2 linked regions of the Homo sapiens genome follow. The protein of the gene in region 1 interacts with the protein of each later gene in a biochemical or structural test. Each region holds a gene or a part of one and is shown on either strand. Other genes may lie near its edges. The genes, in order: ZP2 and ACR.

What was found.
Region 2: the proteins of ZP2 (region 1) and ACR form a complex in vitro, tested with the Homo sapiens proteins (one study listed by IntAct).

Annotation. Positions count from the first base shown.
Region 1 is NC_000016.10:21,203,989-21,220,202, reverse strand, and holds the start of ZP2 (zona pellucida sperm-binding protein 2 isoform 1 preproprotein), read left to right. Parts: upstream 1-8,628; 5' UTR 8,629-8,655; coding exon 8,656-8,717; intron 8,718-8,807; coding exon 8,808-8,896; intron 8,897-10,010; coding exon 10,011-10,094; intron 10,095-10,477; coding exon 10,478-10,572; intron 10,573-13,212; coding exon 13,213-13,365; intron 13,366-14,427; coding exon 14,428-14,472; intron 14,473-14,618; coding exon 14,619-14,783; intron 14,784-15,798; coding exon 15,799-15,895; intron 15,896-15,991; coding exon 15,992-16,173; intron 16,174-16,214. UniProt on the Homo sapiens protein: Component of the zona pellucida, an extracellular matrix surrounding oocytes which mediates sperm binding, induction of the acrosome reaction and prevents post-fertilization polyspermy.
Region 2 is NC_000022.11:50,733,098-50,749,413, reverse strand, and holds ACR (acrosin precursor), read right to left. Parts: upstream 11,211-16,316; 5' UTR 11,179-11,210; coding exon 11,102-11,178; intron 10,144-11,101; coding exon 9,940-10,143; intron 9,721-9,939; coding exon 9,437-9,720; intron 5,354-9,436; coding exon 5,208-5,353; intron 4,762-5,207; coding exon 4,207-4,761; 3' UTR 4,075-4,206; downstream 1-4,074. UniProt on the Homo sapiens protein: Acrosin is the major protease of mammalian spermatozoa. It is a serine protease of trypsin-like cleavage specificity, it is synthesized in a zymogen form, proacrosin and stored in the acrosome.

The sequences.
Region 1 (16,214 bases):
AGCAAGACTCCATCTCAAAAAAAAAAAAGACTTCTGGGCCTTCTGTCTTCCATATATTGATGCCGCCCTACCTTTATATTTATAGATCGATAAAGCTTTCATCCTAGTTCTTTCTGAATTTATTACTGTCAGAAGGCTCATTCAACTTGGATCTGTCTAAAGGACCCAAGGGGAAAACAACATTAACATTGTATATTAGATTGGTAAAGGAACTACCATATGATGTTCGAGAACATTCTCATTGACATAGTCTATCTTATTTTTCCAAGTTAAATTCATATTTGATATTTGAAAGCTATTTTGAGCTGCATTAGCATAACTGGGAGAAGTTTTTATATTATTTATCTTATACTGCTAAAATTCTAATTAATGTCATCTTGTACTTTTAAAAGACAAGTGAACTGCAAGAGAAGCACAGAGTTTTAAAACACCCCCGCATGCACAGACACACACACACAGCGAGAGAGAGAAAATTGAAATGAATTAGAAAGGGCAGGGAGAGGCATCAGGAGACCTGGTTTCTCACTGGAGCTCTATCTGCTACTAACTTGGTAAATGACCTGGAGCAAGTCACTAAACCTCTTTAGATATTAAACCTCTTAATATCTTCATTTTACCATAGGGAGTTGGACTTTGTTTCAAAGCCTCAAGTTCCGGATCCATTCATTTCGCCTTTTTACCTTTATACTACTGAGTTTTCATCCTTGAGCCTTAGACTCTGTAACTTAGGTAGCTCACTCAGAAATCAGTCAAAATTATTATTAAAAAAAATTTTTTTTTGTCCAGGCACGGTGGCTCACACTTGTAATCCCAGCACTTTGGGAGGCCAAGGCGGATGGATCACCTGAGGTCAAGAGTTCAGGACCAGCCTGGCCAACATGATGAAACCCCATCTCTACTAAAAATACAAAAAGTAGCCAGGTGTGGTGGCACACGCCTGTAGTCCCAGCTGCTGGGGAGGCTGAGTCATAAGAATAGCTTGAACCTGGGAGGCAGAGGTTGCAGGGAGCACAGATGGTACCACTGGACTCCAGCATGGGTGACAGAGTGAGACTCTGTCTCAAAAAACTAAAACTAACTAACTAAATAAATTTTTAAGAGACAGGGTCCTGCCATGCTGTCGAAGGTGGTTTTGAATTCCTGGCCTCAAGTTATCTTCTAGCCTCAGCCTCCCAAAGTGCTGGGATTATAGGCGTGAGCCACCATGCCCAGTCTATAATTATTTAATTGGTTATTTTATCACTAAAACAATTCAACCAAAACAGAGGGAATAAAGTTGTTGGAACCTCACCAATGCACCTTAATGTAGACTTTCTCATTGTCTGAACTAGTACCCTGGGTTCTTTGTCCTACCTCCTAGAAAATTAAGGAACATGGACACAAAGGTGGGTTGGAGTGAAAGTTTAATGAGGGAAAGAGGCCAGGTGTGGTGGCTCACACCTCTAATCCCACCAGTTTGAGAGGCCGAGGTGGGTGGATCACCTGAGGTCAGGAATTTGAGACCAGTCTGGCCAATATGATGAAACCCCATCTCTACTAAAAATACAAAATTAGCCGAGTGTGGTGGGGCATGCCTGTAATCCCAGTTACTTGGGAGGCTGAGGCAGGAGAATCTCTTGAATCCAGGAGGCAGAGTTTGCAGTGACCCGAGATCACACCATTGCACTCCAGCCTGGGCAACAAGAGCGAAACTCCGTCTCAAAAAAGAATAGTAATAAGTGAAAGAAAAAAATTCTCTGCAGCAGAGAGGGGAGTCCAAGTGGATTGCCAGGTTACAGCTGAATTCAAAAGCTTTTTTAAGAAACTCCTCTCTCATCTCTAGCAGTTTGAGTAACTTCTCATCAGTAAAGCTGTCTGTGCAACTCCCGGTATCTTACGCAACTGTGGGCATGTATCTAGGCAAGCACAAAGCCTGCGTCTCTTGTTTTGATAACTGCGGGTTTGTTTTAGGTAAGCCCCCCTCCTCCCTGTGTAAGTTCCCACCATGGATATGTCTGAAAAGGGGAGGAAACTTTTTCCTAGGAGCTCGCTAATTAGACAAAGTTGCTTATCTGTGTGCAGGTGCAGCCTGTTTATCCCAAATGATTTTTCCTTTTCTTCTCCCTCAAAGTCAGAAAGGCAGGAGTTACTTATTCTTTAAGGGCTGAAGGAAGAAAACTCCCACCTTTGCACTCTGAAAGTTCACTGAAAATAAACTGACCAAAGGCAGATGAATAAGAGAAAAATTCATACAAAATTATTAATGTGCAGGGGAAGGTGGGAATCACAGAGTAATTGCCCCTAAACCCTCAGTGGGGCACAGATGCATATATACGGTGGGTTTTCTTTTTTTTTTTTTTTTGAGATGGAGTCTTGCTCTGTTGCCCAGGCTGGAGTGTAGTGGTGCAATCTCGGCTCACTACAGCCTCTGCCCGCCGGGTTCAAGCGATTCTCCTGCCTCAGACTCCTGCGTAGCTGGGATTACAGGCACACACCACCATGCCTGGCTAATTTTTTATATTTTTAGTAGAGACAGGGTTTCGCCATGTTGGCCAGGCTGGTCTCAAACTCCTGACCTCAGGTGATCCACCTGCCTCGGCTTCCCAAAGTGCTGGGATTACAGGTGTGAGCCACCGTGCCTGGCTGTATATACAGTTTTTCATAGGGGAGGGAGGAGATGGGGACTGTAGACAATTCTCTTGAGGGGCAATAATGATTATCAGGGAGAATGAACAGACCAGGGAGAGAGAAATTAACTTGTACATAATTATCTTTGGAATTTGACTGAGCTTCAGAGGCTGACATTATCTTGTGGAAAAGTCTGTCCATGTGTGGTTACATTCCTTAGTCTCCTTTCCTGCTATAGATAATGAGATTTCAGGGAGGGGATAGAAGGCAATAGTGTTTCTTCTGTTAAGAAGCTGCCTTGGCTGGGCCCAGTGGCTCATGCCTGTAATCTCAGCACTTTGGGAGGCCAAGGCAGGTGGATCATTTGAGGTCAGGAGTTTGAGACCAGCCTGACCGTCATGGTGAAACCCTGTCTCTACTAAAAATACAAGAAAAAAAAAATAATTAGCCATGGTTGCTGGCGTGCACCTGTAATCCCAGCTACTTGAGAGGCTGAGGCAGGAGAATCACTTGAACCTGGGAGGTGGAGGTTGCAGTGAGCCCAGATCATGCCATTGCACTCCAGCCTGCGCAACAAGACCAAAGCCCTGCCAAAAAAAAAAAAAAAAAAAAGAAGGAGCTTTCTTTTTTTTTTCCCCAGAGAGAGTTCCTTCCTGTACTTTGGGGGTGGAAAGGGAACAAGGCAAGGATAGAGAGACCTTGATTCTGAGGCTTATTTCTGAAGCCTTTTAATTTTCCAAAGCACTTGGCATGCCCAGGCACATTTGGGGAATTGTTTTCTGTGCTCCAACCCTCCCATCTCCTTAATCCTATTCCCGGTGATGATATTCAATGTATTTAAAACCCATACAGCAAAAGCACGAACAAGTCAGAATAGACAATGGTCGCAAATGCCCAGCACAGCCACGTGGACTCCCCGGACCCTGGCAACCCTCTCCTTTCCTGGATGATGCTGTCGATTCTCTGGGACAACTTTCTTGACTTGTAATCCAAATACATATGTATAGACCCACATGCAGACACATAAAGTATAAATATACACATAAGTTTGAGAAAGAAAAGAAACTTTTTATCTGAAGAATGCAAGTCCCTTTAAATTATCAGGCCCAGAGAGGCATTGAAACGTGACAGCAGTCACACCTCACTCCCTCGGGCTCAGTAATTATCTCTTGGAGCTACTTGATATGTGGGCTCTAGACTGACACCAAGTAGCCATAAAATTAACCTAACTATGCCATACACTGGACATCATAACTCATACCATATGCTGGACGCCATTAATCATACCCTATAGTTCAACAATGTATAGCCAATCACTAATCAGTGTTTTTTTTTTTTTTTTGAGATGGGATCTTGCTATGCTGCCCAGACTGCCTTAAAAGTCCTGGGCTCAAGCTATCCTCCCACCTCAGCCTCCTGAGTCACTGTGACTACAGGTGTGAGCCACTGTACCCAGCTAATCAGTGTTATTTCTGTAAATCAATGAGTCAAGAAACACTGTATCAGCCACTAATCCCAGCACTTTGGGAGGCCAAGGTGGGCGGATCACGAGGTTAGGAGACCATTCTGGCTAACATGGTGAAACCCCGTCTCTACTAAAAATACAAAAAATTAGCCAGGAATGGTGGTGGGCGCCTGTAATCCCAGCACTTTGGGAGGCTGAGGCAGGTGGATCATGAGTTCAGGAGATCAAGACCATCCTGGCTAACACGGTGAAACCCCATCTCTACTAAAAATACAAAAAATTAGCTGGGCGTGGTGGTGGGCGCCTGTAGTCCCAGCTACTCGGGAGGCTGAGGCAGGAGAATAGCGTGAACCTGGGAGGCGGAGCTTGCAGTGAGCTGAGATCGTGCGACTGCACTCCAGTCTGGGCGACAGAGCAAGACTCTGTCTAAAAAAAACAAAAAACAAAACAAAAAAAACACCCACTTGTGACAAAAGTGGAGAACTCACCAAGGCAACTTGGAAGTGTTTCCTGGGCAGCTGTCCACACTTTGCCTCAAGTAAACTCTTTAAAACTATATTCTCTTCTCCTTCCTTTAGGTCGACAGGTTTTTCATTTTCCTATTAAAGCAAAACATGAAAGCATAGTAGATATATAGCCCTGAAATTCCAGTTTTATTGCAGACATCTTTCATGTCAGTACTCACAGATCTGAACGAACTCATAGAATCATTTGCAGTAGCTGAAGAGTATTCCATAGTTTATCCAACCATCTCTAGATGGTGATATTTAGGTTGTCTTTTATAAATACTTTTATAATTGTTGTGGAAAACAAGGGCAGCAGATTCAGAATTTAAGAATTATAAACTGTCATTTATAAGAACCACACTTCAGAAAGGAAGACATCTGCCCAAATGAGGCAACAACAAAACTATAGTCTTTCTTTTATGTATGAGAACCCCGTCAAGAAATGCCTTGTGATTAGCAAGAGAGAAATGGTTTCATGATACATAGAACCCAGGGCAGAGAAGAGGAGAAGGAACACCTTGTAATAATAAATCAGCAAACTTTAAGAGGTTCATTGAAAAGAGTGTGGAACACATATATTTGAACGAGGTCTGCTGTTTGTTTACTGCCTTTTTTTTTTTTTTTTTTTTGAGACAGAGTTTCACTCTTGTTGCCCAGGCTGGAGTGCAGTGGCACAATCTTGGCTCACTGCAACCTCTGCCTCCTGGGTTCAAGCGATTCTCCTGCCTCAGCCTCCCGAGTAGCAGGATTTACAGGTGTGTGCCGCCATGCCCAGCTAATATTTTTGGTAGAGACAGGGTTTCACCATGTTGGCTAGGCTGGTCTCAAACTCCTGACCTCTGGTGATCCACCCGCCTCAGCCTCCCAAAGTGCTGGGATTACAGGCGTGAGCCACTGCACCGGGCCTATTTAGCGCAATATTTTTTTAAATTTAATTTTAATTTCCAGGATACATGTACAGGACATGCAGCTTTGTTACATAGGTAAACGTGTGCCATGGTGGTTTGCTGCACCTATCAACCCATCACCTAGGTATTGAGCCCCGCATGCATTAGCTATTTATCTTGATGCTCTCCCTGCCCCCACCCCCCAACCCCTGTCACCAGGACCCAGTGTGTGATGTTCCCCTCCCTGTGTCCATGTGTTCTCATTGTTCAGCTCCCACTTATAAGTGAGAACAGAATGTTAAGAATCATTTTTGTAATAACTTTAGTTTTTCCTACCTCCTGATAGGAGACACTGTTTTACGGAGCAGCTATTTCTTCCTGTGTTCAAAGTCAGTTGCTGAACAGATGGTAGCTTCCTGCTTTTCCGGAGCAGAATCCTAGACATGGATGCTCCTGGGCCCAGAGCCATTTGTTCGGTGGCTGTCCCCAGCACACCACAGGTCTGGGTTAGGTGAGACAAACAAAATTAATCTCTGGTGCACATACCAGCTTCACCAGCCCACAGCGGGCTTTCTCACCACATCTCCTGCTTGGGGTCTCTGTGCTGCCCCTTAACCTTTTAGAAACCCCAAATTTGGGGGCTCTGACCAAAGCTGCCCTTTCCAAGGCAAAAACTTCCCGCTCTGGAGAAAGACACCATCTCGAGGGGAGTGAGTAGCGCGGTGGGAAGGGAGGTGGGGTCTGAGGGAGGCTGAATAAGCACATTAACCCATCACTTCTCTGACCACCTTCTCAATAGGGCTCTGAGTCTCACGTCTATGCTCCTTTTTCCTCTAATGTCTTATCATAGTCTTAACCATTGTGGCAATAAATTATATTTGTAGAAAAGGTGCCACTTTTCAGAAAAATATGCATAGAAGGAGAAACTATTGCTATCATGCTTTGGCTATAAAATGAAATCCTTTTACCATCTCTATCCCCAAAAACTTATCTGTATTTTGCTCCTTCTTCCCAATTCCGCTGGGATGTAATCTACTCAATTCCCGTAAGGAGGTTAACCACTGGCCACCACAGATTTTCTCGCCTCGCTCCCTCCAAGTATTTTCCAGGTTTTCCTGATTATAAGAATCACCTGTGGTGCTCGTTAAGTAAATATTTCCCAGGCACATCTTCTGGAGAGTCTAATTCAGCAGCTTTTGGGTGGGACCCTGGAATCTGTGATATTAATGAGAGCTCCATGTGATCCTTTTGATCAAGGAAGTCAGGGAAACAGTTAATCTCCAATGTTATTTCAGATGCCTCAGGTTACACCTCAAAGGCAACACATGAATCAATACAGTTTAGGATGATGCAAAAATAATTGCAGTTTTTGCCATTAAAATTAGTGGCAAAGGGCCGGGCACAGTGGCTCACGCCTGTAATCCCAGCACTTTGGGAGGCTGACACGGTTGGATCACTTGAGGCCAGGAGTTCGAGACCAGCCTGGCCAACATGGTGAAACCCTGTCTCTACCAAAAATACAAAAATTAGCTGGGCTTGGTGGTGGGCGCCTGTAATCCCAGCTACCCGGGAGGCTGAGGCAGGAGAATCGCTTGAATCCAGGAGGCAGAGGTTGCAGTGAGCCAAGATTGCGCCACTGCACTCCCACCTGGGCAACAGAGCAAGACTCCATCTCAAATACATACATACATACATAAAAGTAGCGGCAAAAACTGCAATCACTTTTGCACCAGCCTAATAATTGCAAGTGTCACCCACCACTTGAATGGAGTCTAAGCCTTATATCCACCTATTTTGGAACATGGGCTGCAGACATCTAGTTATCTCAAAGAGTGTGAGAGATGTTGAAAAAACACAACCATCAGGCCTCAGGAAATCTGAGTTCTCCACCTGGTCCCTGACATTGTTGGGGCAAGTTGCCTTGCCTCAGTTTCCCCACTGGGAAACTTCCAAGTGCTTTACAACAATATAACATTCTTATTAGATCACTACTCCCTTTTACCCAGAAGTTTTACTTTGAGGAATTTATCTTGAGGGTTACCCAAGGATATGTATCAGAATGCTCATCATGTTACTGCTTATAATGATGAAAAATTACAAGCCACCTTATGCTCATAATTAAGGAAATTATATAAACACAGATTTATCTCAAATTGAATATTATGCCACCCTAAAATGGTAACAGAGAGCTTTATGTTTAATAGTTATAAAGTGACAGTAGCAGATTACAAAACAGTATTTAAACTTTCCTCCCAGTGTTTTAAAAAAATTGTGTGTGGTGTTTGTAGAAACATGTCTAAAGTTACTCACCTAAATATTAGCAGTGGCACTATTATGAGTGACTTTTGCCTTTTCTCTGTATCCTTCTGAAATTGTATCTTTGCGGTAAGCTTAAGCTTTTACACTTGGGGGTCAACAAGGCTTCATTCATTTTTTTAAAGACACTTCCTGTGCATTATCAGGGTAACTTCTGCAGTAGCCAGAAGACTAGATGTTACTTAAAAGGTTTTAGGGTAGGTGCAATGGCTCACGCCTGTAATCCCAGCACTTTGGGAGGCCGAGGCACGTGGATCACCTAGGTCAGGAGTTCGAGACCACCCTGACCAACACGGTGAAACCCAATCTTTACTCAAAATACAAAAATTAGCCAGGTGTGGTGGCGTGCACCTGTAATCCCAGCTACTCAGGAGGCTGAGGCAGGAGAATTGCTTGAACCCAGGAGGCAGAGGTTGCAGTGAGCCGAGATTGCACCAGTGCACTCCAGCCTGGGTGACAGAGTGAAACTGAATCTCAAAAAAAAAAAAAAAATGTAGTGGTGTGAACAAGACTTGTTTTTTTCTCAATAAAGCCCATGATTCTCTTTGGCTCTACATTGCAGTTGTAAATAATTTGCCCAAAAGATCCTAATTTCCCCCATAGTTATAGGGAAAACACCAATTCACTCACCTGGAGCTGATTTCAGCAAACTCTGATTTCATGCCTGGCCCACAGGGCAGCTGGCAGAATACCCGGCGCAAGCTGTCAGGAATCAGAGGCCACTTCCTTCCCCAATCCTTCCGTTTCAGCTGGGAGAATGGGACAAGATTCAGGTGCCCCCAATGGGGAGAGGGTGTGGATGCGGCTGGCTTCCTGCTATAAAAACACAGAGCAGCCTACCCTCTACCTGGTTGATCTGGTAGTGTCTTCTGCTATGGCGTGCAGGCAGAGAGGAGGCTCTTGGAGTCCCTCAGGCTGGTTCAATGCAGGCTGGAGGTGAGTAATTCTGGAAGTGGAGGGAGGGGGTATGGTAGCTTTGTTTGTTAAAGTCCATTCTTCCTTGACTATCTCCCTGTCTCTTTCCAGCACCTACAGGTCGATTTCTCTCTTCTTCGCCCTTGTGACTTCAGGGAACTCCATAGATGTTTCTCAGTTGGTAAATCCTGCCTTTCCAGGTATGTCTCTTGGGTGACAGAAGTCTTCTTAGCAGAGAAAACAGGTTGCAGCTGGAAGGCCTAGCTGGCCAAGAAACACAGGCCTGGCTCAGACAACCTCCATTCACCCCCTTTATTACCTTGGTCAGGTTACTGGATCTTTCTTCTGCTAACCTGTAGACTCACTATACCTGCTAAATGAAAACTCAAACACTTGCACTGCCTTCCAATCCCTCACTGCCTCAAGCTTTATGGTATCCACAGAACAGCAAACCACCACACTAAGCCCTCATCTTTAGGAGCAGCAATCTTCAAACACAAACTCATGCTTAAGGAAAACATCGACATAACAAGCAAAACTGGAGCTGCTCACTTGACGTTCACCTGAGCCAGAGGCTGCAGAGTAGCAGATGATGGGCAAAACTTGATCTTTAAAAAAAAAAAAAAAAATGCAGCCAGGCGCCGGGGCTCACGCCTGTAATCCCAGAACTTTGGGAAGCCAAGGCGGGCAGATCACCTGAGCTCAGGAGTTTGAGACCAGCCTGGCCAATGTGGTGAAACCCCATCTCTACCAAAAATACAAAAACTAGCTGGGTGTGGTGGTGGGCACATGTAATCCCAGCTACTTGGGAGGCTGAGGCAGGAGAATCGCTTGAACCTGGGAGGCGGAGGTTGAGGTGGGTTGAGATCGTGCCACTGCACTCCAGCCTGGGTGACAGAGAGACTCCGTCTCAAAATAAATAAATAAATAAATAAAAGTCCTGGGACTTACCCAGGACTTTGTTTAACATCAATTTGCAAAACCTGTTGACAAAGCTTTTGTCAGTTTTTCGGGCCTGCCTCCATCTGCTCCACTGTCAAGGTGTTGACCTGGCTCCTACAGACCTGCTTGTCAACCCTAACCTGGGCTTCTTACTGGAACACTTCAAAAGCCCTGGGTACCTGATATTTTCCTTACAGTTCTTGGCATATTGTATTGTTGTCTTGGTCACTTGTTTGTGAGCTCTCCCAGGGTAGGGGACGATTCTTGCCTCCCTCATCTGGAATCCCTCCCATCTGAGAGGAGTCTATACACTTTTGTAGGAGTTGCATCACTCATGACTCAAAGCCCCCAAATGCTTCCTTTGCTCCTTAGGCACTGTCACTTGCGATGAAAGGGAAATAACAGTGGAGTTCCCAAGCAGTCCTGGCACCAAGAAATGGCATGCATCTGTGGTGGGTAGGTAACGTGTGTTATCTCCTCATAGTCCTGATTAGCAGACAGCCTTTGGCTTAGGTCAATCCTGTTTGGGGAGCAGAGTACCCAAACTCCTGCAGCAACGGCATCCAACTCCCATGATGCCATGGGGATACCTGATTTGCATGAAGCCACCCAGCATGGAAGACCTGTCTGTCTTCGAAAGTGTGTCTTATGCCAGCATCTCTGGGAAGCCTCTGGCTGCAAGTCATACCATCTCAAAGCTCAAGTTCTATCACTGAGTTGGGGCGGAAGTGAAGGGACTGAAGTACCTTAGAAATGGACTGGTGGTCTTGACTCTATAGCTTTGGACTGTCACTGAAATGTACTCAGCCATCCTGTCTAACCTGCTCTGGCCTTGGCAGATCCTCTTGGTCTCGACATGCCGAACTGCACTTACATCCTGGACCCAGAAAAGCTCACCCTGAGGGCTACCTATGATAACTGTACCAGGAGAGTGGTAAGTCATTGCTTTGAGCAGTTCTTGGGGAAGTACGTAGTAACCTAAGAGTTACTGGCAGTAAACTTGGCTAAGAACTTTCTCTTTGGAGTAAAGCAGTGGCTCTCAACCAAGGGGGTGGTGTCTCGTGTGTGGCTCTTCTTTTCTATTATAATCTGTCTAGGCCAGGTGTGATGGCTCACGCCTATAATCTCTGCACTTTAGGAGGCTGAGACGGGTGGATCACCTGAGGTCAGAAGTTTGAGACCAGCCTGGCCAACATGGTGAAACCCCATCCCTACTAAAAATACAAAAAACTAGCTGGGTGTGGTAGCACACACCTGTAATCCCAGCTACTTGTGAGGCTGAGGCAGGAGAATCGCTTAAACCCAGGGGACAGAGGTTTGCAGTGAGCTGAGATTGCTCCATTGCCCTCCAGCCTGGGCAACAAGAGCAAAACTGTCTGGAGGAGGGTGGGGGGAATCTGTCCAGGGGACATTTGACAACATCTAGAAACATCTTTGGTTATCACAACTGAAGGTAGAAGAGCTACTACTGGCATCTAATGGATACAAGCCAAAGATGCTGGCAGACAACCAACATTACCCAAGTCTCCTCCCCATAACACAGAATTACCAGGACTGAGATGTCAGTGTTGAGGATGAGAAACCCTGGCATTCAAGTACTTGAGCCCTTGAGCCCTGGCTCTACCACTAATCAGGTGTAATTTCCACCAAGTGAGCCCTTTCAAGCCTGTTTGCCCATTAGAAGATGAGAGTAATGGTGCCTGCTCCATGGGGGTAATGAAGACTAATGATGTTCTACAGATTAAGACCTGGTGCAGAACCTGGATACAACAAGTGATGAAACACGAGCTATTTTGATCTGTGAACCCCAACATGAGATGGAAGGCTATTTTGGTGCTAGCAAATAGAAATCTGACCTATAGAAACAGGTGTTAAAAGGCAAACAGCAGCTAAGCAGTAAGGGTTTTTCTATTGCCAAGCAACAGTATTGCCCAATCAGGAATATTAGGAGCAATAAAAGCAACCTGTCTAAGCAGAAGCTAGCAAGTTGTAATTTGGAAAGTTTGGGTTTGACTAGTTGGACATAGGCCTGGGGTGAGTTCTGGGAATCTGCATATCTAACAGTCTATACCATCTGATTACGATGCAGGTGGTCAGCAGTCTAAGCTTTGTACAGATACAGTCTTAGACCCTACTCTGTAAACAGGCTTGAACTGTAAGTCATCTGGTCCCCTAAAGCCCTCTGTGATCAATCAATGAAGTAATCATAGGTCCTTCATGAAAAACCTGATAATTTCCTTCTAAAACAGACCTTCTCAACATTAGAGGTCTTGGAGTCGCATTCCCTTAGACTAAGGGTCTGCAAGCCATAACCTGTGGATGGCCAAACGCAGTCCATGGTCTCTTTCTGAGGCAGGCTTGCTCTGTAGCCCAGGCTGGAAAGTAGTGGCTGCAATCATGGCTCACTGCAGCCTAGAACTGCTGGGCTCAAGGGATTCTCCCGTCTCAGCCTCCCAACTAGTTGGGGCTACAGGCATGCAACACTATGCCTGTCTAATCTTTGTCTTGTCAAAATGGGGATTTCACCATGTTGTCCAGGCTGGCCTCAAACTTCTGGCCTCAAGGGATCCTCCCACCTCAGCCTTCCAAAGCACTGGGATTATAGGCATGAACCACTGTGCCTAGTTCATGGGTTTTTTTTGTGTTTTTGTTTGTTTTTGTTTTGGTTTGGTTTTCAAACTAAGAATGGGTTTTATCTTCTTAATCTTCTTGAGACAGGGTCTTGCTGTTGTCCAGGCTGGCATGCAGTGGCATAATCTCGGCTCACTGCAACCTCTACCTCCCGGACTCAAGCAATCCCCTACCCTATGTCTCAGTACCACCTCAGCCTGCCCAGTAGCTGAGACCACAGGCATATACCACCACACCCAGCTAACTTTTGTGGTGTGTGTGTGTGTGTGTGTGTGTGTGTGTGTGTGTGTGTGTGTGTTTAATATATATATAGAGATGGAGTCTCTCACCATGTTGCACAGGCTGGTCTTGAACTCCTGAGCTCAAGCAGTCAGTCTGCCTCAGCCTCCCAAAGTGCTGGAGTTACAGGCAATGAGCCACCATGCCCAGCTGGCTTTTATCTTTTTAAAGTTCTTTTAAGGAAATATGCTATGGATTTCATGTGGCTCACATGAGTCTAAAACAGTTGCTAATGCATAATGGAAAAAGGTTGGCTGACCCCTGCTTTTAGACTGAGTTTCCTAAGGTCAGGGGTAATAGCAAGGGTAGCTCTACCCAGCACAATGGCAGCTACTTAGGTGCTTAACAAGTATTCAGATAACCTGGGTAGAAGCCCCATACCAACCCCATTCAGCCAGGACCATGGTACTGAGACATAGGGTACACATAAGAGAAATAGAAACTGAACTCCATTTCCTGATGCTAAAACTGGCCTATCAGCATGAGTCTTCACTAACAGATTACAATGGGCTAGCTAGTCTCCTGGTACGGGAATGAGGTACCTTCCAGCACTTGTGGTATTAGTAACTTTAAGGGTTTTCCCACTCAGATGGGTCAGATGGTATTCTAGAATCCCATGGGGGTACAGTACTTACTCTGTTCCCACTGTGCTATCTGTACACAGCATGGTGGACACCAGATGACCATCAGAGTCATGAACAACAGTGCTGCCTTAAGACACGGAGCTGTCATGTATCAGTTCTTCTGTCCAGCTATGCAAGTAGAAGAGACCCAGGGGCTTTCAGCATCTACAATCTGCCAGAAGGATTTCATGTCTGTGAGTGAAACGGGCTGACTGCTCGGGGTATATGGCTACTGCAGGGGGAATATGATGATGATCTAACCAGGGCGGGGCTTAGAAATCAGACCATGATTTAATCCTGTACTTGCTAATTTTCTGTGTGATGAGGTTTAACTTTACCCTGAGGCTTTGTTTCCAAGTCCAAAGTGATGGGACAATAATGCTTACCTCAGGGTGGCTCTAAGAATTTACTGAGGGTATATACATGGTACTTGGCACATCATGCATGGCAATAGGGTTTTATTGGTAGTTGCACTCACACTAATCATCTGACAAATGGAATACATGCCATGTTCCAGGCCCTACCCTAGATGCTAAGATACAATAAGTGAACAAAACGACCCAGTCACATCTTCATGGGTTTAGAGTCTAACATGGCTAATGTCAACAATGGACAACTAAAAATAACACTGACATAAAAGCAACTCAATAACAATGATAGAACTGCATGGCTTTTACATAGTACCTGATTTCTATGGACATTGGTGAAAGGGCAAACGTTTAAGAACATTGTCCTGGTCAGGCATGGTGGCTCATGCCTGTAATCCCAGCAATTTGGGAGGCTGAGGTAGGTGGATCACCTGAGGTCAGGAGTTTGAGACCAGCCTGACCAACATGGTGAAAACCCATCTCTACTAAATACAAAAAACTAGCCGGGTATGGTAGTACATTCCTGTAATCCCAGCTACTTGGGAGGCTGGGGCAGGAGAATCGCTTGAACCCAGGAGACGGAGGTTGCAGGGAGCCGAGATTGCACCATTGCACTCCAGCCTGGGCGATGAGCGAAACTCTATCTTGGGGGGAGAAATGTGTCCCAACTTACAACTGGAAAGGAGCTTAGATCTTCCAGCTGCCTCTTGGGATCAGAAGTTCAAAGAAGTATAATGACATCTAAGGGCACAGTCAGGGTTCATGTGCTTCTTCCACTGCATCCCACAGCAGGCCTTTTGGTATGACAACCACACAGCAATTTCTGGCATGAATTCGGAAACATCTACCTCCAAATCAAAGTCTTACATCACAATTCTTTTCTTCCAGTTTTCCTTGCCACGGGTCTTCTCTGGCTTGGCTGACGACAGTAAGGTATGAAGCAAATTTTAAAAATCAGACCTTAATAACCTTTAATTCTATGTTAAAGGTGATATTACCTTTAACCTGATAAATTGTTAGACTACCAGAGACTTGGTTAAGGGAGCACCAGCCCTCTAAACAAAGCTTTTTGACTTCAGGGGACCAAAGTTCAGATGGGATGGAGCATTGAGGTTGGTGATGGTGCAAGAGCCAAAACTCTGACCCTGCCAGAGGCCATGAAGGAAGGCTTCAGCCTCTTGATTGACAACCACAGGATGACCTTCCATGTGCCATTCAATGCCACTGGAGTGACTCACTATGTGGTAGGTGTGGAAGTCTGGCTTTGTACCACCAAAGCACAGGCCAGTATTCCTAAATTGAAGCATGATCTCAACCATGTCTTCACATTAATTTATAATACAACCCATTTTAATGCCTATTAAGTGCCAAACACTTCGCTGGGTATTCACACCTGTAATCCCAGCACTTTGGAAGGCTGAAGCGGGCAGATCGCTTGAGGTCAGGAGTTCAAGACCAGCCCGGCCAACCCTGTCTGTTTAGTGAAACCCTGTCTCTACTAAAAACACAAAAACTTAACTGGGTGAGATGGTACATGCCTATAATCCCAACTACTCAGGAGGCTGAGGTGGGAGAATCGCTTGAACCCAGGAGGTAGAAGTTGCAGTGAGCCGAGATTGTACCACTGCACTCCAGCCTGGGCGACAGAGCGAGACCATTTCTCAAAAATACATAATCCTTACCTCAATCTAGTCTCTTTCCCATAGTCTTAAATCTATAGTACAACACAGAACAAGCATATTCCTGAAAGCTTTATGGGTTAAGGGGTTCTGTTTGGGTTGTCATTGTCCTATATTGTTTTATAGCAAGTATTGGTGCTTTCCAGGCCAATAGTCTGAACACTGCACTAAATGAATTAATCTCCTAAAGTACTTAGGACAGGTCCTGAGATGTAAGTGCTCAAATGCCAACCACTTCAAGAACAGTCCTATCTCCCAGTAAGAACACAAATGGATTGAGGCTTGAAAACATTGTCTGGCTGCTGATACTTTAAAATAGTCATATGGGGTAAGGACAGATCTTATCTGCCTAGAAGTCATTGGCTACAGGTGATCTAGACAACATTCTTCCAGATGTTAGAACAAGGTTAAAACTAATATACCTCCAGATTAGACAAATTAGTCATTAGACAAATGCTTAAATCCTACTTGTGTCAAAGTAGTGCCCATTACTTGGATATATACTTGCCAAGATGATTCTTACTGGTTAGAGATTCAAGTAACCAATGTTTTTGAAGATCACTGTTATTTCTCCCCCTAGCAAGGTAACAGTCATCTCTACATGGTGTCTCTGAAGCTTACATTTATATCTCCTGGACAGAAGGTGATCTTCTCTTCACAAGCTATTTGTGCACCAGGTAAGGTCCCAGATAGCTGCAACCTCAGTGTGGGAGACATTGTCCTAGAAGCTTAATCAAGGCTGGTAATGGGCATTCTGTTGTCATTCCTTCTAGATCCTGTGACCTGCAATGCCACACACATGACTCTCACCATACCAGAGTTTCCTGGGAAGCTTAAGTCTGTGAGCTTTGAAAACCAGAACATTGATGTGAGCCAGCTGCATGACAATGGAATTGATCTAGAAGCAACAAATGGCATGAAATTGCATTTCAGCAAAACTCTGCTCAAAACGAAAGTATGTTCAATTGTCAACCACTGAACTCCACCGGGTCCTGA
Region 2 (16,316 bases), on another chromosome or scaffold:
CCAAGAATAGAGTTTCTGGAGTAAACTCCATTAAGCTAACTTCTGTTTCTTGGTCAGTTTTCTACATATTAAAGATGAACCGTTTTCATTTTTTCACATTTCCATTGTAAATTTGCTAAGATTGGATTCACCAGAACATTTTCCCTTGCAAATATTGTAAGATTTCCTATATTGATGAGAGGCACAGCGAGGACCTCTGCCTCTGTGAGTGTCAATATTGTGCATGATCCTTGCCGCGCCCACTGTTCTGGCATCAGAGTCTTGCCCTGTACAGTTTAGCCACTGTCAAACCATTTTCTTTTATTGTTCCGATCAGTAAGCTTCATTATGAATTCAGTTTTTACAAATATTTTTCATTTGCTTAGCCGTCCCATGAGAAAACAGTGAGCACATCCCTCAGATATCTAAGTGTGCACACCCCTCGGTTGTCTAGGTGGGCACACCCCTCGGATGTCTAGGTGGGCACACCCCTCGGTTGTCCAGGTGGGCACACCCCTCGGTTGTCTAGGTGGGCACACCCCTCAGATTGTCTAGGTGGGCACACCCCTCGGATGTCTAGGTGGGCACACCCCTCGGATGTCTAGGTGGGCACACCCCTCGGTTGTCTAGGTGGGCACACCCCTCGGTTGTCTAGGTGGGCACACTCCTCGGATGTCTAGGTGGGCACACCCCTCGGGATGTCTAGGTGGGCACACCCCTCAGATAGTCTAGGTGGGCACACCCCTCGGATGTCTAGGTGGGCACACCCCTCGGATGTCTAGGTGGGCACACTCCTCGGTTGTCTAGGTGGGCACACCCCTCGGATGTCTAGGTGAGCACACCCCTCAGATTGTCTAGGTGGGCACACCCCTCGGATGTCTAGGTGGGCACACTCCTCGGATGTCTAGGTGGGCACACCCCTCGGATGTCTAGGTGGGCACACCCCTCAGATTGTCTAGGTGGGCACACCCCTCGGATGTCTAGGTGGGCACACTCCTCGGATGTCTAGGTGGGCACACCCCTCGGATGTCTAGGTGGGCACACCCCTGGGTTGTCTAGGTGGGCACACCCCTCGGATGTCTAGGTGGGCACACCCCTCGGTTGTCCAGGTGGGCACACCCCTCAGTTGTCTAGGTGGGCACACCCCTCGGATGTCTAAGTGGGCACACCCCTCGGATGTCTAGGTGGGCACACCCCTTAGATGTCTAGGTCCCTGGAGTTTTGGTTTGTCACACAGCTGGTCATTCTTCCATTTCTCCTGTCACTATGAGCAGGAGACACCTGCTTCACGATCTGAAAGTTTAACCTTTTCAGGGTTAAACTATCCATAGGAACATGAAGGCAGATCAAAGAGCGTCAATTTTAAAAATGAAAATTGGAACATCTATTACATTGGTAAAGATAGACACATTTCGTAAGAACAGTGTCGGCTTAGATGTAGGGAAATGGGCACTCTCATGCATGGAAGGCTAAACATTCCTTCCTAGGAAAGAACTGTGCCACTTTGTCTTCTAAGTATCCCTATTGTGGAAGATCAATTTAGAGACATAAGATGGGCCTGTACACACTAACATAGAAATACCTCTATATTTGCTAAATGGAAAAGCAAGTCATAGAGTAGTGTGAATGGTGAAGGATCAGGAGATTATGTGACATGTCACCATATTAATGTGCATGTGAAGTTTCCAGGAATCACGGCTTGAATTCTCCACCCAGTCTATGGCCTCTCATAGGGTGTTCCTTGAGAGTAGGCCCTGTCTCTCCAAGGAGGCCCAGATGTCAGCTATAGATGATAGGCCCAGGGTAAGATTTTCTCCATCACTGGGGAGAGAAGAAACTAAGGACAAGGAGCATTTATGGGGAGAGAGAACCAAGAAAATCAACTCTGGATCACAGAAAGCTCAGAAGAGAAGCAGTGAAGTCTCTGGGGTAGAAAAAAGCTGCTGCTGCTGTAGCTCCACCCCAACTTGTCCAAAACCCCTTTGTGACCGCAGCACAACTTGCCCCATACTTCCATGTGCTGGCCCACCTGGCTCTGTGTCTGGCTCAGGGTCATTGAGGGTGAATCCCAAGCTGCCGTTGTTACGGCTTCTGCACGGGGCCTTGCATTTTGTATGCTTAGTATTTAGACAATGTCAAGTGTCTGGCACCAGAGTACAAAGGGAGATTAAGAAACTGGCTTTAGGAGAGAGAGCCTAAAAGTCAATAAAATGAATTACCAACTCCAACTTCAGCAGCACCAGCTCTTAAGCCAAGGCAGATAGAATGTTTTAAGTGTGATCAACTGTTACTATCCTACAGAGCCATGGGCCATTCGACTCAATACGCAAGCCCTCCTATGTGGCCAAAGCATTTCAGGGGTCATAAGAGGAAAACGGCAGGCACCGAAGTGCCCCTGCAGATAAGCGTAAGATTATGCACCAGCAGTCACCACCAGCTGGCCCATGAATGACAGCCCACGTTCGTGGGCATTTCTGGTGTGTCAAGACCTGCTTTAATACTCCGCATCTGTCCTTATTTCATGGTCACACAGCCCTCTGGCACATCTTCCCCAGAGCACGGAGCTTATGCGGGGTAGAGCAGGGTATTTGCTTGAACCCAGGTAGACCAATAAATTTTGAAGATGAAGATTCACAGCTGCTCCATCAGTCCAGGTTCCAGCTCCAGCAGGAAAATGACTGGTCCTTTGAGCTTTCTCAGCCAGGGTTCCTCCCACCTGCCATGGCACCTTCTCTCTGCCACCTGTCTTGGTAACCGGGGCATAGGACCACCTTGCGCTTGACTCACACAGGCAGCTAGGTGGACACACGTATGAGTGAAAGCTTGTTGCAATGACTGCTCAGCCAAATGCCAAGGTTTTCTCTCTTTCTGAGACCTGCCATCTTCAGTCTCACAAGGGGTTAAACCAGCAGTCAAGTTTTGCATTTTTACTCCCTGATCAGAGTGGGCGGTTGGCCTGAACCTATCAGGATTTCCTTCTTTTTTTTTTTTTTTTTTTTTTGAGATGGAGTCTCACTCTATCACCCAGGCTGGAGTGCAGTGGCGTGATCTCGCCTTACTGCAACCTCTGCCTCCCGGGTTCAAGTGATTCTCCTGCCTCGGCCTCCCGAGTAGCTGGGATTACAGGCACCGCCACCTCACCTGGCTAATTTTTCTGTGTTTTTAGTAGAGATGGAGTTTCACCATATTGGTCAGGCTGGAGGATTTCTTCCCCAGGATTTTGCAAATAGATGTGAACAGTTCCAGGTGACAGCTGCCCCCAGCATGGGGCAGTGTGGGGCAGGTACTCTATGCAGACCAGGGTCATGCCTTGCCTGGGTTCCTCACCATTCTTGGTGTCTGCTTCTGGCCTTTCCTATTGGTTCTGTGTGACATCTTTGCATCCTTATCACTTAAATGGCTCTAACTGGTTTCTGTTCCTTGCAATGGAAGGTCTTAAAATAAATAACCCCAAATCCTAAGGAAGCCACTCAAAGCTCACTCGGGGGCATCCAAAAAGTATTCCCCATTGCAATTCCTAGAAAGCTCTAGCAAAGAATACATTTTTTAATTTGCTCAAATCCAGGAACTAATAAGATTTAACTACAGGCAAGTAATGAACAGGCTTGTTGGTGTCAACTGGACACTAACAAGCCACAAGCAAAATTGTGTTTGGTAGTAGACACTTGTTTTGGTGGCCTAGTGGCCTCCTTAGCCTTTGTGTTCTGGGGAGTTCAACCTTCATGCAGAATCTTCTCTGTGGGTGTCAACACCACCAGCCTCCTGATAGAAGACTTGGACCCACACCCCCTCTTTCCCCGTCAGCTCACTCACAGCTGCTGCTTTGGGGGTCCACCCCCTTTGACTTGCACATGCAGAGATGGCTCTTTTATTTTCACCATTTGTCGTTTCTCCCTAAGTGTGAAATAAAGACCATCCCCGGTCTACGGCCCCAGGTCACCTTATTCCAGCATTAAAAATCAAGATTTTAAAAAACACGATTGGCACTAATGTACAAGCAATTCCGCCTTATTGTAGGGTGAAGGAGAGAGGGTAGATTTTATAGGGGAAATTTGGGTTGGGAGGGGGGATAGGAAGAAGTCCAGAAAGCATCTCTTGATGTATATGCATGTATACATACAGATATGTGTGTGTGTATATCTATATATATATGTTTATTTATTTATTTCATCTTTCCTTTTTCTCAGGAGTGAAGGGCTCACTGGGTCTGTTGAGAACCAGGTCAGATCAGGAGGTCGAGGTCAGTTCTGGGAGCTCTGTGGTCTCCATGTCATAATGGTTCTTTCCGTCGGAATAGGTCTTCCCCTTCAAGACCTCTATGAGCTGCTGTAGGCGCTTGGCAAAAGAAAGTCCTTGGGGAAGTTTTGTGGTAGATGAGGGTGTAGGTGGGGGTGGGGGTGGGGGTGGGGGTAAAGGTGAGGCTGGAGGTGGGGGTGGGGGCGGGGGTGAAGGTGGGGGTCGGGGCTGGGCTGCCGGTGGTCGGGGTGGAAGTGGTCGAGGGGGCGGTTGGAAATACCAAGGAAGGTGAGCAGAGATAGGGTGGGAGAAGGGGGGTCGAATCGGGGGCGGTCGAGTGGTGGGAGGTGGAGGGGTGGCCGATTGAATCATACGCAAAGCGTTAGAACCAATCTTGGAGGCGATCCAGTTCAGATAGGGCCAGGTGGCCGTGTAGATTCCGGGGCGCTTGGCACGGGCACAGCCTACCCCCCAGCTTGTGATTCCCACGACCACATAGGCGCTTTCCTTGCTGTCTTTGCACATGAGAGGCCCGCCGCTGTCTCCCTGTCCAGAAGGACACAGAGGTCACTATCTGCCTGAGCCACTCTTCCCCTGCCCAGAGGGGTCGGAAGGCTCTGGGAGGACAATTTCCACAGTGACATGGTCTCCTGCTGCTGTAAACACAAGTGGTTGTAGTAAAGTTTGAGGGGGTGTCAGGGGCTTCATTTGGGATGTGAGGAGGGTGTGAATTGTCAGGGCTTTCCTTGCAGTGAGATGAGCAAACCCACGTGTCCACAGGGGCACATGGCAGGGGCAGCCGGTGGCTGTCACCGCTCATCCCCACTGTGAGAGTAGGTGCTAGAAAAGGGACCGGGGAAGCAGTCACTAGAGAAGGGCCCTGGGCAGAGCAGTGGAGATAGTGGAGCTTGGGGATCCAAAAGGAGGATGTTCTCAGGGGCCGGGAGAGTCCTGGAGGGACCCAGGGGCCCAGAAGCCAGAAGGAAGGTTACCTGGCAGGTGTCGATCTTGCCTACAGGATACCCCGCGCACACATTGGTTGGCTGAACGCGCCCATTGTACCACTGGGTCGAGTTACACAAGTCCAGGTCGATGAGATCCACACGTGCCTCCATCAGTATAGATGATGGCCTGGGGGCTATAGTCAGACCACTCGGTGGTCAGTGATCACGGGAGACACGGACAAAAGCCCTGCCTCCTTGCCCCACCGAACCCCATCCTCTGTGATGCTCCAGTTAAACCTCAGACCCATCCAGTCGATGCCCCGACCCCTCCTTATACACCAGAAAGAGCAGACTAGAGGTGGTGGGAGGAGGTGGGGAAATGTTATCCAAATCAAGGCCAGAGGAGAGAGGAAGAGAGGAAGGAAGGGTGGAGGCCCGTGGACAGGTGGATGGGGGGTGGGTGTGCGTATTAACGATGGATTATGGAGGTTAGTTGCAGTATTACCAATAACACCTAGTGTGCACCAAGCACTCCCTGAGTCACATGGTCCCGTTATTCCCATTTTGGATCAGAAGGCTGGAGCACCGCCCACCCAGGTCACAGTAGAGAGGTGGTGGGGCTGCAGCCTGGCCTCAGGACTGCTCCTCTCCAGACTCCAGTCTGAGACACACTGTCCACTCCCACAGTCTGGCTGTAAGCCACTCCCCCTGCTTCTTGTCCCTCTTCAGAACTCCTCGGCTCAGCTGCGGACGGGATCTGCTGCAGCTGGGTCAATAAGTCCCTCCCCATATGCTGCATATCTGTTCCGAGGAGACCGCAGGGGAAGCTCGGGGCAGCGCCTCCACACACGGGCAGACCTGGCAGGGGCAGGGGCGGTTGAAACAACCCCGATGCGGACTTCCTTGAAAGCCCTGGACTTGGCTGGGCGCGGTGGCTCACGCCTGTCATCCCAGCACTTTGGGAGGCCGAGGCGGGCGGATCACGAGGTCAGGAGTTCGAGACCATCCTGGCTAACACGGTGAAACCCCGTCTCTACTAAAAATACAAAAAATTAGCCAGGCATGGTGGCGGGCGCCTGTAGTCCCAGCTACTCGGGAGGCTGAGGCAGGAGAATGGCGTGAACCCGGGAGGCGGAGCTTGCAGTGAGCCGAGATGGCGCCACTGCACTCCAGCCCGGGCCACAGAGCGAGACTCCGTCTCAAACAAAAAAAGAAAGAAAGCGCTGGACTCTCTACCGTGACCTTTGGGTTAGAAAGACCCGATGCTACGGCGCATGCGCCAGCGTTGCTCCTTTTCAAGGGGTCCCACAGACAGAAGGGTCCCCAACAGCAGCAGCCACTCTGGCCCCCACCGCAGCAGCACCTACAACCCTGGGGGTGGATCTGGACGTCACCTGCAGAGCAGATGGGAGCAGACTGAGGTAGGGGCAGACCCAGAACATAGCTGCACAGGCCAGGACGGGAGACAGGGGACACACGAGTGACGTGCATAGGGCTCGGCACACAGCAGGCGTCTGGTAAGCGGCTGCTGAACGAGTGCTCGCTGGCTTTCCGTTTTTTAATCCCCTTAGCCCCCACCTTTTCTTACCATCCAAGCAGCAGTGAGAGTTTTGTACATGCACTGCCCTTGGGGTAGGGGTGACATTGAAACAACAATGACAACAATCCTGGCTTATTAGCCATTAAGACGATTTTTTTTTTTTTTTTTTTTGAGACGGAGTCTTGCTCTGTCGCCCAGGCTGGAGTGCGGTGGCGCCATCTCGGCTCACTGCAAGCTCCGCCTCCTGGGTTCACGCCATTCTCCTGCCTCAGCCTCCCGAGTAGCTGGGACTACAGGCGCCCGCCACCATGCCCGGCTAATTTTCTGTATTTTTAGTAGAAATGAGGTTTCACCGTGTTAGCCAGGATGGTCTCGATCTCACGACCTTGTGATCCACCCTCCTTGGCCTCCCAAAGTGCTGGGATTACAGGAGTGAGCCACCGCGCCCGGCCAAGATGACTTTTTAAGTCTAGGGCAGAGCCCATAGTCTTGAAAGCCATGGGTTTTATTGTGAAGAGCCAGGTGTCCTCAAACAGAAAAGGGTTTTCTAAATCCCAACACCTTGGCGGGTTTTTTTTGAGATGAAGTTTCGCTCTTGTTACCCAGGCTGGAGTGCAGTGGCGTGATCTTGGCTCACTGCAACCTTCACCTCCCGGGTTCAAGTGATTCTCCTGCCTCAGCCTCCCGAGTAGCTGGGACAACAGGCATCCACCACCACACCCTGCTAATGTTTTATATTTTTAGTAGAGATTGGGTTTCACCATGTTGGCCAGGCTGGTCTCAAACTCCTGACCTCAGGTGATCCACCTGCCTCGGCCTCCCAAAGTGCTGGGTAAATTACAGGAATGAGCAACTGCACCCAGCCGACACCTGGGCTTTAAATAACAAATGCTTAAAAGTCTGCAGGGACTCAAAACCCAATGGGAAAGAAGCAATACCCAAGCAATACCCTTCCAGCCCCAAAGCAGATGAGTTGAAGGAGGTGGTAAGACATGGAAGGTTTGAAGGGATCACAGGAGTTGGAGCCTGGGGGTTTCTTTAAGACTTGGGCTTATGGGTACAGGATGTGTTTGCAAAAATGAAAAACAAAAAAACCCCAAACAGAAACAGAGTGATCCTATTAGGTTTATGGGAATTCCAGAACAAAAAAGGTTTTGCATGGCATCCAAGATATAGCTAGGACACTACAATCTGTCTGAGTAATAGAATAGGACAGCAACGGTTGGCAGTGGGGACCCTAAGATCAGCCTCCCAGGAACATAGGGACCCCCAAGAGCTGTGGACATCATCAGACAGGGGACAGAGCATGGCAGGCTAGGGGGCTGGACAGAGGCCAGGGCAGAGCCATGGGTATCGGCAGCTGGAATAGAGGCTGTCACTCCAGGCCAGAAGGGGATGGCCACGTGTCAAGTGAGGCCAGTGAGAACAAGGACAGCTGGGATGAGACTCCCTTCCCTGAGGGACAGGAGAGGTGACAAACCTGTCAGAAACTTAGACCACGCCCTCAGAGAAGGAAATAAGAGTTAAAGGAAGAATCCTCAAATTATTGACTTTTTGTTGTTGTTACCCAAAAAAGGCTGCGTTTTAGACTCATATGACTGAATTGCCTTGAATTAAGAAGCCTCATTATCCATTATCAAGAAAAAAAGAGATTGAGATGCACCACTTATGGAAAGCTGGAAGTATAGGTCACATGCAGAGATCAAGTCCTACTGGGTCTTGTCCTGCTGGCAAAACCTTGCTGCTCACTGCTGCCATTTAATGGGGTCACCTGTTGCTTCTGGGATAAATGGTATCTCTAGTGTGCCTAAGTATGTAGGGAGAGGTGTCTGGGCGTCTCTGACCACGGAGTCAGTAATGACAATTTGTTCTAGGTCACACCTGGGGCCCTCCGTGAGCCTGGTCTGGTACGGAAGAAATTCCCCCTACTCTTCTAGAACTCATCTGGTGTCGAGTGTATCAGGTAGTGTTGGATGGGCAAGAGATCTTCTGGGAGCCAGGGGAGAGAGAGACAGCTTGGTTATGGACAGAGCTCTAGAGCGACAGCTACACCCGTCTTGAATGGAGAGGTACCTGCCGGACACTCCAGGAAGCCTGAAATACAGGGATGCCTATGACCCACAGAAAGCCACACCAACCACCGGTCCCCTTCCCAGTCTACAGAGCAAATGTCAAGTAACTCAGATGGAGAGGGTAGATTTGGTGCTATGACTGCACCGGAGGTGGCTGCTGATGGTGACAAAGACAGCCTGGAAGCAGGAAGGCTGGGCCCTGGAATCACAGGTGTTAGGAAATGGTCAGCTTGGAGACCATCTGATCCAGCCCCTCCATTTACAGATGAGGAAACCAAGGCCCAGAGAGTGGAAGGCACTGTCATACGGCCACATAACCTTATCTGGAGCTCTTCTCCAAAGGCTGTTTCAGGGTTGCTGCTTGTTTCCAGGATCCAGCAGCTTGGGCCCCAGGTGCCAAATACAGACACAGCCTCAACCCCATTCTAAGCAACGCTGCGCTCTGCCTGCACCTGCTGTCAGCCCCCCCGTAGACAGCCAGACGAGTCACCCATCACGTGACCTGGCACAGGGGACTGTGGAAGGCCACAGTGATGGCTCTACGTGTAGCGCCGTGAGGAGGATGAAAGCAGCCTGGCTGGGTGTCAACAAGTGACCGCTGCACCTCAAAGACCACCAGGAGAATGGCCAGCAGCGTCCCCCCTTGGAGGCGCTCCCATACTCACCTTTCTCTTCTATATATCCCCAGCCGGCCACCCAGCAGCTCTGGGAGCCTCTGGGGAGGCCTGCCTTAAAGTGGGGCAGGCAGCCCGGCCCAATGAAGCGCCCACACGAAATGGGAGGGGTGATCTCCACGAGGGCAATGTCATTTCCCTCTGTCGCAGAGTTGTATTTTTCATGAATGATGATTTTCTCCACATATCTCTCTTGCAGAGGCGCCTTTACTGGTTTATTGTTCCCATATGTAATTTCCTTTGCTCCGAAAACCAGTCTCCAGTCATGCACATTACTGTGGGCACAAAGGTAAGCCAGGTCACAACCGGCTGGACAAAAGCCTGGTGACAGCGACCCTCAGGGCCTTCCCCTAGCAAAGGTCTGGACCAGCCCCCGGAGTCTTGCAGCCACTTGGCCCAGAGCCCCAGGGAGACGCTGCACAGCATCCCCGGGGAACGCCCCTCTCTGAGAAGAGCCGTTCTGAAGACCTCCCTCAGTGCATCCCTACACGTACTTTTTGCCGACGAAGCAGTGAGCAGCAGTGAGCACCCATCGTGAATTCAGCAAGCTGCCTCCACATGTGTGGTACCTGTGGCTGTTGTACGTGAAGATCTGGAGGCTGACCATCCAGGGCCAGGCCCCATGCTGTGCAGCCTTCCCGCCGACGATGCGGACACCACCCTGTGGGTTTTGCCTGAACCGTAACCCACAGGGGCCACTGGGGAGAGACCAGAGCACAGTTCAAACCTGGCATGAGCACAGCCTGTCCTTGTAACTCCACAACTGAGGGGAGGCAGGGACATGGGGTTGGGAAAAGTGGGGAAGAGCTTCCGGGTTCTGGGAAAGCAGGGGCAGCCTGCGCTATGTAGGAAGCCGCAGGCTCTAGGAAATGGTTCTGGGGCCACGACTTCTCAGGTCTTGTGGGTGCAGTCACAGATGGAGAAAGAGGAGGCCATAGGAAGCCAGGACAGGCTGCATGGGCCCTGAGGGATGGCCCGTCCCTGGGCAGAACAGGAGGGTAGAGGTGGGGATGCGGGGCCTGGGGACAGAGGGGTGTAATGGCCTGAGGTCCTTATAACCAATCTTGGGTGGGAGACTCAGGGAAGTCAGGTGATGAAGGGGGTCGTTGACAGTGATGGGAGGAGGGATAGCAGCCAGGGGCAGATACTGTGGCCCACAGGTGTAGGGGGCACACTGAGAGCAGTGGAGGTCTAGAGGTGGAGGCTCTGGGAACTGTGTCACGGGTGGGAGGCCACATATAGCTTGGGAGGTGTTGGTATTTCGGGGTACCTTGGAGTGAGAGAGCCTACTGGGGGGTAGGGGTGCAAGCGGTGTGAAGCGATGATATCCTGGGGCTGTTGGGGGCAACCACGGGTTGGGACAGCTGTCTGTGGGGGGATAAGGGCTCCCAAAATCAGGACTTCATGTCTTCAAGACAGTGGGGTCAGTCCCTGGGGGAGTGGGAGAGGCACAAGGAGCCTGAGGTGCTGAGGGGTCCATCTCTGGAGGAAACCACGAAAGCTGAGGGTCTGGGGGCTCCAGGCTGCTGATTCTGGGAGCAGGGGGGGTCCAGGTTAGGGATGCAGCCTCCTTTTCCCTAGCCCTGGACAGAGGGAGTCGGGGTGGTACCTGCTCCTCAGAAGATCCTTCCCCCACCAAGGTGCCCCGACACTTACTCACACGTGGCGTTATCTTTAGCAACCACGGACACTGCCAAGACCAGCAGAATGGCAGTTGGTAGCATCTCAACCATACTCCTGGCACTGCCTGGCCTGCAAGCCTAGTGACCTCACAAAGCTCCGTGGCTGCCTGGCCAATCAGCAGGGGTGACCCCCACCCCACCCCCAGCAGTCAGGCCAGGTAAGAGCCCCTCGCCTTAACTGGTTTGTGCTGAAGAGACTTCTTGACTTCCTGCATAGGCTCCCCCACCACCAGGATGATGGGGGACTCCTGTGCAGCCCCACTCCCTCTGTCCCAAGGCCAGGATCTCCATTCCCAGTAACTCTTGCGAGGTCCCCACATCACCCAAGGCTCTGGCTTTGTGCAGGTTCAGAGTCTGCCTCTCATGCGTGCTGTGACCACTGCAGACTCACAGACTGAGGAGCGGCTCAGCCCTTCAGTGATGAGACGGTGCAACATGTTTGTGGATCAGAGGAGTCAGGGTCAGCAGATTAATTGATCCTTAATTGTTGTTGGGGAAGTTTTCTTTTCCTCTTCCAAGTGAATGCTATCAACACACTTTTCCAAGAGTCATTTTGAATTTTCCTAATTTACAACTGCAAAGCCCACCTTCCTGTCCGTTGCTGAATATCACAAGGTCTCCTATTATCCTGAATGTCTCCAGATCGGCTTTCTGTGACTGAGGTGGAGCAAGGTGTTTTCTCCTATACTTGAATGTCAAGAGTTTTCATACAGCTACCTGAATATCATGAAGCATCATTTTTCCCATCTGATCATCAGGAACTAGCATCTCACCTACCAGAGTGTGACAAATGCTTATTGCAAACACCTGAATGTTAAAACATTTCCCATCGCCTGCAAGTGTCAGGAGGTCACACTCTTACCTGCATGAGGGCAGCCTTACCTCTTCTACCTGAATGTAAGATCTCAACCAGCCCGAGGGTCAATAGGTTGCACATCATCTAAGTGGGTGTCAGAAGGTCCCATGCCTCCAACCTGAGTGTCAGGACATCTCATCTCCTATTCCTGAGTGTTGAGTTTTCAGATTATCAGATGATCTTGATTTATCTATTTTCTCTAACTGAATGTCGTACTTATGACATCCTCAAATGAATGTTCAATAGGTCTCGTATATCTTACCCAGTATCAGGGAGTGATCACCTCCTTCTTTGAAAGAAATAACAACTCTGTTTTTCCACTTCAGTGCCAGAGGCCCTCATCGCCTCCACCTACAGGTTAAGAATTCTCACCTCCACCACCCAAGTGTCACCCTGTCGCACTTTCTCTACCTGAAAATCAAGAGGTCTTACATCTTCCAGCTGAATGTCAAGAGGTTGTATTTTACCTATATGAATGTTCTGAAGTCTCCACCGGTATACCAGAGTGTTGGGAGATCTCATTGCCCCCATCTGGGTGCCAGGGCATGTCCTACCCTCTACTTGAATATAGTCTCATATCCCTGTCTAAATGGCATGGAGCTTTCATCTCCTCTGCTAGAGTATCATGAGATCTCCTCTATTCTGGGTGTCCAAAGTTCTCATCTCAACCCCCTGAGGTCTGGAGGTATTCTCACCTCTTCCTGGTTGTCTGGAGGTCTCATCTCCCTTACCTGAGAGTCATGAAACCTCCTATCTCCTATATGCCCTATCTAAGTCATGACACTTTATCTCCTCCGAGTGTCAGGGGATTTTTCTACCTTTATGTCAGGTAGCCCCACTTCCTCTAGCTGAAGGGCATACAAGTTCTATTTCGTGACTTGAATGTGAATAGGTTTCAGCTGCACTACTGAGTGTTAGCGGACCTCACTTATTTTAACTGAGCATCAAGTTGTGTCTCATAAATAACCAGAAAAAGACTTTGGAAATATGGTTCAAGAAATGGCAAGAAGAATTGAAGAAGTGGGCCCAAGTGCAGAGGCTCATGCCTGTAATCCCAGCACTTTGAGAGGGTGAGGCAGGCAGATCACTTGAGCTCAGGAGCCCCAGACCAGCCTGGGCAACACGGCAAAACCCCGTCTGTACAAAAAATACAAAAATTAGCCAGGTGCAGTGGCACCTGCATCCCAGCTACTCAGAAAGCTGAGGCAGGAGAATCATTTGAACCCAGAAGGCAGAAGTTGCAGTGAGCCGAGATCGCACCATTGCACTCAAGCTTGGGCAATGGGAGTGAAACCCTGTCTCAAAAAAAAAAAAGAAGAAGATTAAAGTTTTGACTGTTAAAGAAAATATTATTCGGGTGTTTTTAATGGATAGCACCTATTTCTTTACAAATATTTAGGAGGTATCAATAAAAAAGTCTGAAGACCCAATGTCAGTGTCTGGATTCTAGAAGACCATTACAGTTTGACTCCGCAAAGCTTACCCACTTCTGATTCTAGAAGGGGCTGCCAGTCATCGTGCCTGCCCGTGGCTATAGTGATGGTTGCGGGAAAAGTACCTGGCCCGGCCCATTTAATTTTGTCATTAAACTAATGGAAGCAACAAACATCTCAACTCAGAGTGACTTTGTCTGACCTTCTTCATGCTGTTCTAAGAGCGAAGGAGAAATGGGTGACAGGTCTGGGGCCAGAGGGTGGGGTCCCATCCGAGGGCATGGCTCAGGCTGAGGCAGAGTGCTCAGCACAGGGGGCAGGATGGGGGCTCCCCATCTCCCCTCAAACTCCTCCCTGCTCTCTGCTTCCACCCTGACCCCCAGGCACCCCTCCAGCTCATCCCAGCCATTCTCGCTGCTCCTGCTCACCCCAACCACCCGCTGCCTTCGCCAGCCGTGCCCACTTCTGTCCCCATGCCTTATTTACCTGGGCAATCCAACTCCCACCCCAGTTTTTCTCACCCTGATCTCCAATCCCTTCCAGCCCCCAATCCCCTACTTTTCCATTCCTGTCCCCACCACCCTCCGTGAGGAGCAGAAACCTTATCCAACCATCCTCAATGTCCAGCCAGCCAGGAAGGCAAGAAGATCCCAGAGGGAGTAAGAATGGTTGACGCAGTGAAACCTTGAGGGCCGAAAAGGGGTAGGTTTCAGGTCTTCACCCAGGGGAAGCAGGTGCCTCGGGGGTGGTTTAAGCAAGCAGGTGAGGGTCTGGGTGGCGCCATGGAGAAGGACGAAGGCCCTTTGAGGCTATGGTTGATGACAGCTTGAAAACCAGCCTCAGGCTGGGCAAGGTGGCCCACACCTGTCATCGAAGCACTTTGAAAGGCTAAGGAGGGTGGAGTTCTAGACCAGCCTGGGCAGCAAAATGAGGCCCCCATCTCATAAAAAATAAAAAAAAAATTAGTCAGGTGTGATGGCCCACGCTTGCAGTCCCAGCTACTTGGGAGGCTGAGGCAGGAGGATCGCTCAATTCCAGGAGGTTGAGGCTACAGTGAGCCACGATCATGCCCCTGCACTCCAGCCTGGGTGACAGGGTGAGACCTTGTCTCAAAACAAAACAAAAGCAGCCTCCATGTCCTGGCCCTGCCCCAAAGTTGTCCACAGGTCTTGGGAGTGGCTGGGGGGTGCCAGCCCACAGGAAGAGCAGAGGCCACACAATTTCAAATTTTCAACATTTCCTAATCCTCATCTTATTTTCAGATTAGAAACTGAGGCCATCATAAGGAAAGGGCTGCACGGGAAGTCAAGGAGGGGGGCCCTGCAAGGGTCTGAGTGTGGGAGCAGGGGGCCCCTGACTCGCTCTGGGCCTGAGTGTGTGGAATCGGGAGGGTGGGTCTCCCTGGGCTGCACATGGAGCCCTAGGCCTCCATGGGGACTCAGAGTCTGGGGCTAGTGGCACTTCTCCACGGTGCCACCGGCCCCACCCCTGGCTAAGGTTAACCACAGAGCCAAGGTATGCGATTGTCATTCTGTCATATTCACGCGCCTCCTCAACCCAGTGTGTCCAGGCTCTGAAACCACTGCCCCTCCTGTAAGCAACCCTCCCCACCGGGGACGTCACATCTCTGCAGCCCCTGGCCTCAGTGCTGGGTCCTGTGCCCTCTACTTTCTCACGGCTCCCTCTTGATTGCCTTTGCCCACTTGCCTTACTGTTTGCCCTTCAAGACATAGCTCACCACCTCCTTCCACTCAGCGAGGGGTCTCTGTCCCTCCTGTTGGCTGGCCACCCCCACCAGGTGCCACCCAGGACGTGTCTTTTTTGCCACATTATCGGCTGCTCACATGACTGCCTGTGCGCTCCTGAAGGACAATGTCTTGTCTCTGGTGCTCAGGGTGGGAGCAAAAAGGAAACCTCACATCCAACTGGGCAGACAACCCAAGGTGAGAAGCACCAACTTGCTCTAATTTGAGATAGCACCAGGGCCGTGCAGACGCAGAGCCTAACATCTAACTGGGACTCCAGGGAGGGCGGGTCAGAGAAAACGTCCTGGAAGACAGGATCCGGAGATCAGCCTCCAAGCTATGTATGCTTGATGCAGGCAAACGATGGGTGATCCAGGCAGAAGGAAGAGGGCATGTGTGAGACAGAGCCCTGAAGCGTCATAGCGGCTCAGGGATTGCAGGAGGTGGGGGGAGACTGGCGAGCAGCATGTGTGCATGGGGAGGGAGCAGGGGATGCTGGCAGGGCCACGGCAGCACTGGCTGGGCCGGACTGGCTCACGGGGTCCATCCATCAGCTGCATTTACAGACAGGCTGGTGTTTGTCAGCAGAGGGCAGAAATGGAAACAGAAAACCAGTGAATCAGCAGGGAAGGAGTGAGGGCTAAATCTGGTCTGCAGCCGTGGGGTAGGACAGTTGCGAGAGATGCGAGCGGGTTCCAAGACAGGAGCAGCAGAATTTAAAAGCAACCGGACGCTGGCGGGAGCAAGTCTTAAACCCTAGGCTTAAAACCTGGCAGGGGTCATGGAGGACAAGTGGCCTCCAGCTTAGGAGGTGCTACTCAGTGGGTTGGTGAACAGAGAAAAGCTTTCGGTGCAGAAGGCATGGGCTGAGTTCCAGCAGACTCGGAGAAGATGCTGGAAGATGCCAGGTGCCTAGGCATGGAGGTCAAAGATAGGGATCTAGGAGTCACCCGTGCATGTGGTCCAGGCTGAGGAGGTTTGTGTGGCCGGTATGAGGGACAGACACAAATATCCCCTCAAGCAGGCAACTGAGCCATGGCTTCATTTCTTATAAATTTATTACATAATAATATTATAATAATTATTATCAATAATAATAATATAAGAAACATAGATCTCTGTGGGGCGTATCACAACGTCAGGGTCAGGAGGCCT